Linked DNA regions of Homo sapiens: regions 1 and 3 are each linked to region 2. Evidence: fine-mapped expression QTL. A gene starts in region 2. Each other region holds a variant in brackets. All regions are shown on one strand. Distances are from middle to middle. Region 1 overlaps ATP6V0E1 (ATPase H+ transporting V0 subunit e1). Region 2 holds the start of ATP6V0E1 (ATPase H+ transporting V0 subunit e1). Region 3 has its middle 13 kb from the start of CREBRF.

The links. PIP is the estimated chance that this variant, and not a neighbour inherited with it, causes the effect. A credible set is the group of variants that fine-mapping cannot tell apart.
Region 1: its variant is the best candidate, but not a certain one, in a credible set for the expression of ATP6V0E1 in testis (GTEx, PIP 0.63).
Region 3: its variant is the best candidate, but not a certain one, in a credible set for the expression of ATP6V0E1 in whole blood (TOPMed, PIP 0.68).

The regions. Positions count from the first base shown.
Region 1 is chr5:173,032,206-173,036,444 of GRCh38, forward strand. ATP6V0E1 (ATPase H+ transporting V0 subunit e1) reads left to right here. Exons shown (of 4, transcript NM_003945.4): 4 at 2,194-3,240. Among named protein-coding and RNA genes, the nearest start is that of SNORA74B, 14 kb to the left of the region's middle. The variant G/A (reference allele first, on the strand shown) is at 1,796.
Region 2 is chr5:172,981,672-172,985,874 of GRCh38, forward strand. ATP6V0E1 (ATPase H+ transporting V0 subunit e1) reads left to right here and starts at 2,100. Exons shown (of 4, transcript NM_003945.4): 1 at 2,100-2,293. The coding sequence starts at 2,190. RefSeq lists an enhancer at 1,915-2,209 and a silencer at 1,975-2,154.
Region 3 is chr5:173,041,109-173,045,347 of GRCh38, forward strand. No RefSeq gene overlaps it. Among named protein-coding and RNA genes, the nearest start is that of CREBRF, 13 kb to the right of the region's middle. The variant G/A (reference allele first, on the strand shown) is at 2,022.

The sequences.
Region 1 (4,239 bases), 51 kb after region 2:
ATGCCTTTGCCATGTAACATAATGCACATTTACTTTTATTTTATTTTATTTATTTATTTATTTATTTATTTATTTATTTATTTATTTATTTATTTATTTTGAGATGGGGTCTTGCTCTGTCACCCAGGCTGGAGTCCAATGGTGTGATCTCAGCTCACTGCAACCTCCGCCTCCTGGGTTCAAGCCATTCTCCTTGCCTTAGCCTCCCAGGTAGCTGGGACTACAGGCATGCACCACTACAGCTGGCTAATTTTTTTGTATTTTTAGTAGAGATGGGGTTTTACCATGCTGGCCAGGCTGATCTCGAACTCCTGACCTCAAGTGATCCACCTGCCTCGGCCTCCCAAAGTGCTGGGATTACAGACGTGAGCCACTGTGCCCGGCCTACATTTATTTTAAACTGGTATCATTGATCTTGAGTGAAAACTATCCCCCATTTGTATATGGTTTTTCAAAAGTGAAGGCTTATTTTTCCCTTTTTTGATTGTTTCTTTGTCACAAAATGCCTGTACTATGAAGAAGTCTAATCAGTGTGCTCTTCATGGAAAATTAACAGACAAACCATATGTATTCACTACTTCAGTATTCTCAGATAAAATTTATTTTATTGGCTGGGTGTGATGGCTCATGCCTGTAATCCCAGAACTTTGGGAAGCCAAGGCAAGAGGAAACCTGAGCCCAGGAGTTTGAGACCAGCCTGGGCAATATAGCAAGACCCCATTTCTATGAAAAATTTAAAAATTAGCTGGGCATGATGGCGTGGGCCTATAGTCCCAGCTACTTGGGAGGCTGAGGCAGGAAGATTGCTTGAGTCCAGAAGGTCGAGGCTGCAGTGAGCTGTGTTTGTGGCCACTACACTCCAGGGCAGGTGAGAGAGCGAGACTGTCTGAAAAAAATATTATTTATTGATTAGAGACAGGGTCAGGCTCTGTCACCTAGGCTGGGGTGCAGAATGGCATGATCATAGCTCACTGTAACCTCAAACTCCTGAGCTCTAGTGATCCTCCCACCTCAGCTTCTGGAGTAGCTGGGACTACTGGTGTGTGTCATCGTGCTGTAGAGAGTCTCGCTATGTTGCCCAGGCTGGCCTCAGGTGATCTTCCCGCCTTGGCGTCCCAAAGTGCTGGGATTACAGGTGTGAGCCACCACGCCTGGCCTAAATTTATAATCTGCCTGGTACTGATACTTGTACAAAGAGGCTGTTCTGCTGGCCTAAGGAAGAGAACAGAAAATTATCCCTAGATTAAGTGAAAGATATTATGAGGCTTTCACACTACTACAAGAAACAAGTAGCTCTGGTAATTACCACTCCTTGGCCTGATGTTGTTTTCCTAGTACATTGTAAATATAGTCTGTTTAGGGCATGATGGCTCATGCCTGTAATCCCAGCACTTTGGGAGGCGAGGATGGGCACAACGCTTGAGCCCAGGAGTTAGAGCCCAACCTGGGCAGCATGGTGAAACCCTGTCTCTACAAAAAAATATAAAAATTAGCCGAATGTGTTGGCGTGCACCTGTAGTTCCAGCTACTTGGGAGGCTGAGATGGGAGGATCATTTGGGCTCAGGAGATTGAGACTGCAGTGAGCCGAGATCACGCCACTGCACTCCAGCCTGGATGGCAGAGCAAGACCCTGTGTCCGAAAAAAACAAAAATAAAACAAAACAAAAAAAAAGATGGTGTTGAATTTAAGCTGCTAGAAAAAGAAAAGTGTCATTTGTCACCTACACTCGAGATAGCCAGAACGGGGAGCAAGCTACAGGGCAGCCTCCAGTACAAGACCAATGCAAGGAGCCC[G/A]CTCCCCAGGAGCCTGGCCCCAGAGCAGAGTTCGCCATGCCTGCGGAACCTCCCCTCCATGCTATAAGAGGGAAGGGAAAAATACAGACTCTTGAAACTGCGGTGAATTCATTAGATTCCAGCACAATCAATCTCAGTCAGCTTCATTCTTCCTGCTTTCTGTAACATAGAGTGTTACTTGTGCTCCTCATTTCAGCAGTGTCCTTGGTTACTGGACCTTTTGCCACAGCCCTGCAAAACCTGGCCAAACTTGCACCAAGTTGATTATCCTGTGTTTCATATTTTGTTGAGCATCTGTGCATTTTAAAGTGTTGGCTTGGTTAACTTTCTCGATGTTAACTTTTTGCCTTCCTGAGGAATGTATGAGGACCAGTTACCAGAATGGTTTTGTTTTGCAGGTCACGAGAAGAGAATGCCTTCTAGATGCAAAATCACCTCCAAACCAGACCACTTTTCTTGACTTGCCTGTTTTGGCCATTAGCTGCCTTAAACGTTAACAGCACATTTGAATGCCTTATTCTACAATGCAGCGTGTTTTCCTTTGCCTTTTTTGCACTTTGGTGAATTACGTGCCTCCATAACCTGAACTGTGCCGACTCCACAAAACGATTATGTACTCTTCTGAGATAGAAGATGCTGTTCTTCTGAGAGATACGTTACTCTCTCCTTGGAATCTGTGGATTTGAAGATGGCTCCTGCCTTCTCACGTGGGAATCAGTGAAGTGTTTAGAAACTGCTGCAAGACAAACAAGACTCCAGTGGGGTGGTCAGTAGGAGAGCACGTTCAGAGGGAAGAGCCATCTCAACAGAATCGCACCAAACTATACTTTCAGGATGAATTTCTTCTTTCTGCCATCTTTTGGAATAAATATTTTCCTCCTTTCTATGGAAATCTGGGCTCGGTGTTTGTAAAGTTCATTTTTATAAGCTTTTCTATCGCTACATAATGCCTTTTTAAAAAATGATTTTGTAGTCTAAACTTAGGTTGAGTATATAAACCCTGCCATGTAGCTTGAGATGCCTGAAAAGACTGGTAAGTGCGTTTCTTAATCGTTCAGTAACTATTTGAGTGCCTACTGCAGCCAAGGCACTGGAGGGATCAAAGATGTGTAAATTTGGAGTCCCTGCAAGTTCACAAGCTATTTGGAGAGATAAGGTTAGTATACATAGAACTGTAATATAAGGTTGTGTTGGAGCATTGTCCTTAAAGATGGTACCATGGTGAGCAGTTCAAGGTTACCTGCCAGCTGCAGAACAAGGCAGCAAATGCTCCTGAGATGGAACCATCACAGCCTCAGACATAGGACTAAAGAAGTCAAGAGTGATTAAAAAGCCAGGGGCAGGAGACAGTAATTTTGTATTTCAGTAGCAGGCATCTCGATACACTAATTTGAGAGCTTTATTACTTTTAAGAAATTAAAAATTAAAATGAACCTAAATTTTCACCAGCTCATGGCTTTTTGACAGCCAGCCAAGAATGGATTTCCTGTTTTGCAGTTTCTACTTTCTATTCCTCCCAAACTGTCTGAACTCATTACTTTGCTATTCTTATGACCAAAGTGAGTTTCAAGTTGAAGTGACTCTCCTGCTCTCGTTTCTTTTCATTCTTTACTTTTGTTTTGCGCAGTCTGTTAGGCAACTCCATGCTTTACGTTTCCAGCAGGAGGGCCACATTAGCTAATTTCATGGAATACATGAAACATTGATGATTTGAAGTTGAAGGGGGCTATGGTGATATAGGCTAACCCCATCATTTTATGGATAAGGAAGCTGAGCCCAGACAGGGAGAATTTCTCGCCCAGCTTAATGCAGTTGGTCAGAGCTAGACAGGGGAGTAAGATCCATGTTTTCTTTCTTTTTTTCTTGAGACAGAGTCTCACTCTGTCGCCCAGGCTGGAGTGCAGTGGTGCGATCTCAGCTCACTGCAACCTCTGCCTCCCGGGTTCAAGCAATTCTCCTGCCTCAGCCTCCTGAGTAGCTGAGATTACAGGCACCTGCCACCGCGCCCGACTAATTTTTGTATTTTTAGTAGAGACAGGGTTTCACCATGTTGGTCAGGCTGGTCTCCTGACCTCGTGATCCGCCCACCTTGGTCTCCGAAAGTGCTGGGATTACAGGTGTGAGCCACCGCGCCCTGCCATCATACTATTGTTGAAATGTGGGAATGACGAAATCAGCTCAGGTTTTATGAGAGGAAACTCGGTAAATTCCCTTTGCTCAGGAAGTCACTTCACCCTTGAGCCCTAGTTGTTTCATTTATTAAATTCTTGAGAAGGTTCAGTGCCATTAATACCTAAACCCAGGCACATGTTCTCTCGTCACCTCACCCTTAATAGCAGAACTGTTTGTTAACAACATGATTAGGCATCGGAGATGGATGTTGGTGAATCATATTTTCCTGACCGTTGCCACACTCCATCCAGTGTTTGTCAGGGCCCAGACTG
Region 2 (4,203 bases):
GCGGTGTTTGGGCTAGAACTTAAGGACCATAGGATTTCTGCTGGGGCTAAGTTTTGGGGAAGCATTATGAGCACAAAGGAGACAAACTAGTTTTCTACATTGCTGATCAGGTTAAAGGCTTAGAATCATGTCCGAAAAGTTGGTACAGATGTTGAAGATTATTGGTCCAGTTTCCCGTTTAATACAGGAATCCATTCTACTTGATGAAAGAAATCAGGAGTTAATGCAATGTGGCTACTGCAAGGAAACCATGGTCCCTGGTAAAGCACATTGCATTTAAAGACCTGCTTTCTATCTTGCTTTCACCTGTAAGCTTTATCATCAAGCTCCTCAACCTCTCTGAGAACTGGCTTCCTTGTCTATTCCAAGCTTGGCGCATACTATAACTAACATATGTGAAAATTCTCAGCAAGCGTTCTAAGCCCTGTTTATCAGCTCAGCACGGTGGCTTATGCCAGTAATCCCGGCACTTTGGGAGGCTGAGGTGGAGGATCCCTTCAGGCCAGGAGTTTAAGACCCACCGGGGCAACATAGCGAGGCTCTGTCTCTACAAAACATTTTAAAAATTAGCTGGTGTGGTGGTGCACACCTGTAGTCCCAGCTCCTCAGGAGGCTGAGGCAGAAGGATGGCTTGAGCCCGGGAGTTCCAGGCAGCAGTGAGCTATGGAGCACCACTGCACTCCAGCCTGGGTGACAGAGCAAGGCCCTGTCTCAAAAAACAAACAAACAAACAAAACTGTTTTACCTTTCTTTTTCTTTCTTTCTTTTTTTTTTTTTTTTTGAGGCAGAGTTTCACTCTGTCGCCAAGGCTGGAGTGCAGTGGTGCGATCTCAGCTCATTATAACCTCTGCCTCCCAGGGATTCAAGCGGTTCTTGTTCCTCAGCCTCCTGAGTGGCTGGGACTACAGGTGCATACCTGGCCAATTTTTGTATTTTTAGTAGAGATGGGATTTCACCATGTTGCCCAGGCTAGTCTTGAACTACTGACCTCAGGTGATCTGCCCGCCTCGGCCTCCCAAAGTGCTGGGATTACAGGTGTGAGCCACCATGCCTGGCCTGTTTTTCTTCTTACCATTCTGGCTAATTTCTACTTGTCTTTCAAGGCTCAGCAAGGACGAGTTGGGTAGAAAGCCTTGCAGGGTCGTCCACTTACTTTCACACTGCATTGAGTCGCCTGTTTGCAAGGTCATCTGCTCCCCAGAATGTGAACTCCCTCAGGGGTGCCTGATTGACTTCTGTAACTCCAGAGCCTGGCACAGCACACAAGATAAATAGTGGTGCGCTAGTTAAGAGCTCTGGCCTTGAAAATCAGATAATCAGGGGTTGAATCCTGGCCCTGCCACTTACTATGTGACTTTGGGCAAGATCCTTATCCTCTTCCCTGGGCCTCAGTTTCTTCAACTGCAAAGTGGGGATAATAATTACAATTACCTCATAGGCTGAAGTGAGGAGTTCAACACGGGCTCATGCACTTTTTTTTTTTTCTTTTGAGACAGAGTGTTGTTCTGTTGCCCAGGCTGGAGTGCAGTGGCGCAATCTCGGCTCACTGCAACCTCCACCTCCCGAGTTCAATTGATTCTCCTGCCTCAGCCTCCTGAGTAGCTGGGACCACAGGCGCGCACCACCACACCCAGCTAATTTTTGTATTTTTAGTAGAGACAGGGTTACACCATGTTGGCCAGGCTGGTCTCGAACTCCTGACCTCAAGTGATCCGCCTGCCTCAGCCTGCCAAAGTGCTGGGATTACAGGCGTGAGCCACCGCACCCGGCCTGGGGCTCATGAACTTAAAGATCATGGCCCAGTGCCAGGCACACGGGAATTCAGAATAGTAAGGGACAACTATTGTTAAGTTCTCTATGTCTGTTGCATAAGTAGATGAGGCTGTAGATAACTACACTCTTTGTCTAAAAGGGCCAAGTTCTCATCAGAACACTTTGCTGAGCCCCGGGTGACCGAATCCCTAGCTCTGGGGTGAGCGACATGCCTCCAAGGAGCTGCAGCCAGGAGACAGCCAGGCGAAGGCGGGGCTCTGCCTCTGGGCTCCCCGAGGGGCGGAGGCCGGCGCGCGGGTCACGTGGGGGCGCGGGAGGCGGGGCTTGCACACGCTGGTCACGCGGTCAGCTATTGACACTTCCTGGTGGGATCCGAGTGAGGCGACGGGGTAGGGGTTGGCGCTCAGGCGGCGACCATGGCGTATCACGGCCTCACTGTGCCTCTCATTGTGATGAGCGTGTTCTGGGGCTTCGTCGGCTTCTTGGTGCCTTGGTTCATCCCTAAGGGTCCTAACCGGGGGTAAGTGCGTGAGGCCCGCCTTGGGAGGAACGGGCGGTGAGGAGCTAGCAGGCCGGGGCGGGGAAAGGCACGACCCCCACACGGGTCAGAGAACGTTGCATGGGCGCCCCCCGCGCTGCAGAGTCAGGCCCCCGACCCGGCGGAACTCCTTGTGTTCCTTTTCGCAGCAGCTTCAGTGTCCTCCGGCCTGAGCGAGTGGAGGGTGACCTTTGGTGGACCCCCCTTGGAAACGAGTTTCAGGGGAATTTTTTCTCATCATAGTCCTGTGTGGGGAGGTGCAGTCGGAAATGAGCAGGCCGAATCTGGGAGAAACTGGGGTTTGTCCCTAGTCGACTGTCCCCCTTTAGCCCTGCCTTCCACCCACATGAGGCCTCGTTTGCCTGAACTTAAGGATCAAATAAATAAAACAGAAATTGGCTTCTCTGCCTCCCATGCTGTCGCGGTTGCGTACAGAACAAGCTCCTTCGACAACATTGAGCCCAGGCCTTGCATCTAGTGGGCGCCAGGAGGCGGTTGGGGCCTGATCTAAAGCGAGATTAATTACCAAAGAGCAGGAGGTATTGTTGAGAAACCCCTGCGTCATGCCTTTTGGAGGGCGCTCCGGCTCTTGTATGTGAGTGTAAGAAGTGCTTAGAATGATTGGCTAAGAAAGATTTTGTTTTTCCAGACTTCTTTGTTGGTTAGAGCTTTGTCTCTTTTGGAATTAAACTTTTTAACTGTAGTATAAAATAGAGGCTTAATCTTCAAAGGAGCCTTGGAACACCCTCTTCCTGGTTCCTCTTTTGCTTCTCAGTCATTTTTTTCTCAGTTCAAGATGATGAGAGGTGAAACTTCGACTGAAGTCAGTTTGTCAGAAACACCATCTCTTGCTTTATTCTTGAACCTAATTGGTGGCTTCATAGTGCCTGGTTTTCATAGTACCTTGTATGCACAGGAGGCACCCAATAAATACCTGTTGAGTGAATAGTTCTATTGTCTTTATTAAAAGAAAAAGATTTTTGGCCAGGTGCCGTGGCTCACGCCTGTAATCCCAGCACTTTGGGAGGCCAAGGCGGGCGGATCACGAGGTCAGGAGATCGAGACCATCCTGGCTAACACGGTGAAACCCGTCTCTACTAAAAACACAAAAAATTAGCCGGGCGTGGTGGCGGGCGCCTGTAATCCCAGCTACTCGGGAGGCTGAGGCAGGAGAATGGCGTGAACCCAGGAGGCAGAGCTTGCAGTGAGCCGAGATCGCGCCACTGCACTCCAGCCTGGGCGACAGAGCGAGACTCCGTCTCAAAAAAAAAAAAAAAAAAGAAAGAAAAAGATTTTTACTACTTCCCTAATATTTTGTGACCTGAACCCCTTTTGCTCCCTGGGATACATTTGCTTTATTAGTCTAAAATTATTTTTTTTTAAAAGATACATGGTAGATGAATTTTTATCATTTTTAAGTATCAAGTTCCTCCTCCCTGGTAACACCAGTTATATGGGGTCATCTCTCCTACCTATAGAGGTTGATGGACAGAGTCAGAATTCTGGCATTATTAAAGCAATTGTATTTACCAAAGTTAATTAGACTTGTTTTTCCTACTGGAGTTAGCGAACAACAAAGTGCTTCTTTGTTGTGTTTATATCTTCAACTGTTTCATTACCCTACTGTCTGCCTTTATGGCCTTTGTACTCAAAGAAGCATTTATTAATGTACTAATAGCACTGACAATTCCTTTCTTAAAGACCATTCTCTCCCCTTCCTTGGGATGTCATTGCCATTATCCAGGGTAATGAAACCCATCCTGTTTCCACTTAGCCCTAGAGAGTGTCATGATTCAGGTATTTGACCAGCTAGTGATATATAGACATGTGTCACTTAACAAAAGGACTATGTTTGAGAAATGTGTTAGTTGGGCTTTTGTGTGAACAAAGAG
Region 3 (4,239 bases), 59 kb after region 2:
TTGTGATCTGCCTGCCTCGGCCTCCCAAAGTGCTGGGATTACAGGCGTGAGCCACAGCACCCGGCCGAAAAAGAATTTAATAATCAAAATGCCAGCCAAGCAGAAGGACTGGAAATCATTCTCAAATCTGCCTCCCCGAGAATTCAGAGGCTAGAGTTATTTTATTTTATTTATTTTAATTTTATTTTTGAGACAGATTCTCACTCTGTCACCAGGCTGGAGTGCATGGTGCGATCTCAGCTCACTGCAACCGCTGCTTCCTGGGTTCAAGCGATTCTCCTGCCTCAGCCTCCCGCGTAGCTGAGACTACAGGTGCGCACCACCACACACAGCTAATTTTTGTACTTTTAGTAGAGACAGGGTTTCACCATGTTGGCCAGGATGGTCTTGATCTCTTGACCTCGCGATCCGCCCACCTTGGCCTCCCAAAGTGCTGGGATTACAGGTGTCAGCCACTGCGCCCTGCTGAGGCTAGAGTTTTTTTGTTTTGTTTTGTTTTGTTTTTGAGACGGAGTCTTGCTCTGTCACCCAGGCTGGAGTGCAGTGGTGCGATCTCAGCTCACTGCTCCCGGGTTCACACCATTGTCCTGCCTCAGCCTCCCAAGTAGCTGGGACTACAGGCGCCCGCCACCACTCCCAGCTAATTTTTTTGTATTTTTAGTAGAGATGGGGTTTCACCGTGTTAGCCAGGATAGTCTCGATCTCCTGACCTCGTGATCCACCCACCTCAGCCTCCCAAAGTGCTGGGATTACAGGCGTGAGCCACCGTGCTTGGCCCTCTGAGGCTACAGTTTTTAAAGGAAAGCTGGGTGGGCAGGTGGCTAGGGAATGGGTAGTGCTGACTGAGTAGGGGATGAAATTATAAAGGGTTGAAGTTGTCTTCTTGCACTAAGTCAGTTCCTGGGTCGGGGGTCACAAGACCAGTTGGGTCAGTTTCTGGGTTATGGGTTGCCCATCCTAGTGGCGCCAGCTGGTCCATCAAAATACAAGGTCTGAAAGATACCTCAAACACCAGCCGTAGGTTCTACGATAGTGACGTTATCTATAGGAACAATTGAGGGGGTTACAAATCTTGTGACCTCCAGCTACATGACTCCTGGACCATAATTCTGACCTTGTGGTTAATCTGTTAGTTTTATGAAGGCAGTTTAGTCCCTGTGTGATGAAGAGGTTCGTTATCTTTGTTTAAAGTTAAACTATAAACTAAATTCCTCCCATAGTTTTCTTGCCCTATACACAGGAATGAGCAAAGATGGTCAGCTGGTGAGGTTAGAAGCAAGATGGAGTCAGCAATGCTGGATTTCTGTCACGATCATAATCTTTGCAAAGATGGTTTCAAGCTTAGGGACACAGTGGAGTCCAGCTGTGGACAAAGAGTTGCAGGGACCTGAGGTGTCCATGCAGGGACACCCCCAGTGGGCAATTGTTATTTGGGCCTGGAGGTTAAGAAGGACCAGGCTGGAGGTTAGAATGTGGGCACCAATGCAGAGATAATGGAAGCTGTGGGTGTGGATAAGGGCCAGGAAGAATGTGTGTAGAGTGAGAGGAGAGGCTGTCTAAGCTGCAGGCCTGAGGGGCACCCACTCTTAAGGGTGGACAAGGGAAGAGGAGGACTCTGTAAGGGGCAGCCATTGTAAATGGCCCTGGTTTGGATAGCTGTCGGCACCACCCTCACCCCCAGCTTATTAAGTATTTTACATTACATTATCCTAGGAAGTAAGTGGGACACATATTGTACCTCTTTTATAGCTGGATAAACAGATCAACAGTACATCAAACCTACTCTCATTCCAACAGCTTGGCTGCCCTTCAGCTGGTATGTTTACAGGGACTCCAACCAGCCCTCACTCACCTGACAGCCAAGCTGCCCATTTCTGAGATTCTAGGAGCCGCTTACAGCTGTTTTTTTTTTTCCTACTTTTTCATCATTATTATCAGTCCTGTGGCTAACAATAATACCTAACACATAGCAGTTCCACATACGGATGTTAACTTTTTTTTTTTTTTTGAGACAGAGTCTC[G/A]CTCTGTTGCCCAGGCTGGAGTGCAGTGGCACGAGCTTGGCTCACTGCAACCTCCGACTCCTGGGTTCAAGCAATTCTCCTGTCTCAGCCTCCCGAGTAGCTGGGATTACGATGTGCGTCACCACGCCTGGCTAATTTTTTGTATTTTTAGTAGAGATGGAGTTTCACCATGCTGGTCAAGCTGGTCTCGAACTCCTAACCTCAGGTGATCCACATGCGTCAGCCTCCCCAAAGTGCTGGGATTACAGGTGTGAGCCACCGTGCCTGGCCTTTTTTTTTTTTTTTTTTTTGAGATGTAGTTCTGCTCTTGTCACCCAGGCTGGAGTGCAATGGTGTGATCGCGGCTCACTGCAACTTCCACCTCTGGGGTTCAAGTGATTCTCCTGCCTCAGCCTCCCAGGTAGTTGAGATTACAGGCATGCACCACCATGCCCAGCTAATTTTTGTATTTTTAGTAGAGATGGGGTTTCACCATGTTGGTCAAGCTGGTCTCGAACTCCTGACCTCAAGTGATCCACCCGCCTTGGCCTCCCAAAGTGCTAGGATTACAGGCGTGAGCCACCACACCCAGACCACAGATATTATTCTTAATGTTTCACATATTTTAACTCATTTAATCCTCACAAAAACCTATTAAATACATTTATTATCTTCATTTTATAGATGAAGAAATTGAGGCCCAATGTTCCAAGCTGTTGTCAAAAAACCAAATTATAACAAACTAGTTTAAAGATTTCAATTGGCTTTATTTGCAATTCTAGAATCAGGCAACACTTCATTCCATAAAACAGTAAGTCCCAAAGAGCTGAGCAGAAGAGCTTGGCTTTATACACACAGAGAGGGGCTGGAGAAAGCAGAAGGAAGGAACAGAGCATATTAGTTACTTTTAGACAGAACAATAGGAATGTCACTGGTTAGTAACATTGGTTTACTTCAGGATACCTTTTTGGTTTAAGGATTAAGGCAGCCGGGCGCGGTGGCTCACGCCTGTAATCCCAGCACTTTGGGAGGCCGAGGCGGGTGGATCACGAGGTCAGGAGATCGAGACCATCCTGGTTAACACGATGAAACCCCGTCTCTACTAAAAATATAAAAAAATTAGCCGGGTGTGATGGTGGGCGCCTGTAGTCCCAGCTACTCAGGAGGCTGAGGCAGAAGAATGGCGTGAACCCGGGAGGTGGAGCTTGCAGTGAGCAGAGATCGCGCCACGGCACTCCAGCCTGGGTGACAGAGCGAGACTCTGTCTCAAAAAAAAAAAAAGGATTAAGGCAGAGGAACTTCCCTTATCATACTGATTGAAGATTGGAACTGGTCTTCTTGGGAAATTGGTTGTTGTCTGTCTCTCTTGATTTCTTGCAAGGTCAGAAAACTCTTCAGGTTTGGTGATCTGGAACTTTAACATGGCTGACTCCATTTTTATTTTTTATTTTTATTTTTTGAGATGGAGTTTCGCTCTTGTTGCCCAGGCTGGAGTGCAATGGCGCAATCTCGGCTCACTGCAACCTCCGCCTCCCAGTTTCAAGCAATTCTCCTGCCTCGGCCTCCTGAGTAGCTGAGATTACAGGCATGCACCACCACGCCCGGCTAATTTTGTATTTTGAGTAGAGACGGGGTTTCGCCATGTTGGGGCTGGTCTCGAACTCCTGACCTCAGGTGATCCGCCTGCCTCAGCCTCCCAAAGTGCTGGGATTACAGGCGTCAGCCACCGTGCCCGGCCCTCCATTTTGATTTTTAGCCTGGTCTGTCGGGGCCTAATGCAGGAGCTTATTCCAAAACAATGGCCTCCTATAATGGTTTATTTAACAGTGTTAATTAGAGGAAATGGGGTTTAAACCCAGGGGAGTCCGACTTTAGGGTTCAGGGCTGTCACTGAGGCTCCATTTTTCTGAGGTAAAATTCCTCACTTTACCCATCGATGACGGTCTTGTAGCCTTAGTTTCTTGGCCACACCTTCAACCTTTCAGTGCCTATGGTTGTTCCTAGCCCCAAAAGGTCACATGGTTCTTCTAATACCTTCCATTAAGAAGCCAATAGCTTTCTGAAAATGAGGCCAGAGGCCATTTGGAGAATCCTAAACCTACTACCTGGGAACGGGCAGGGTCTTGTGGTTCTGAATGTCCTCAGAATGAATTTCCTGCCATCCCTGGGATTCCAGCTCCCCTCTCTCCACAGCTCCCCACAAGACAGGGTTGGAATTGCTAATCCCCTGCCTTTGGGG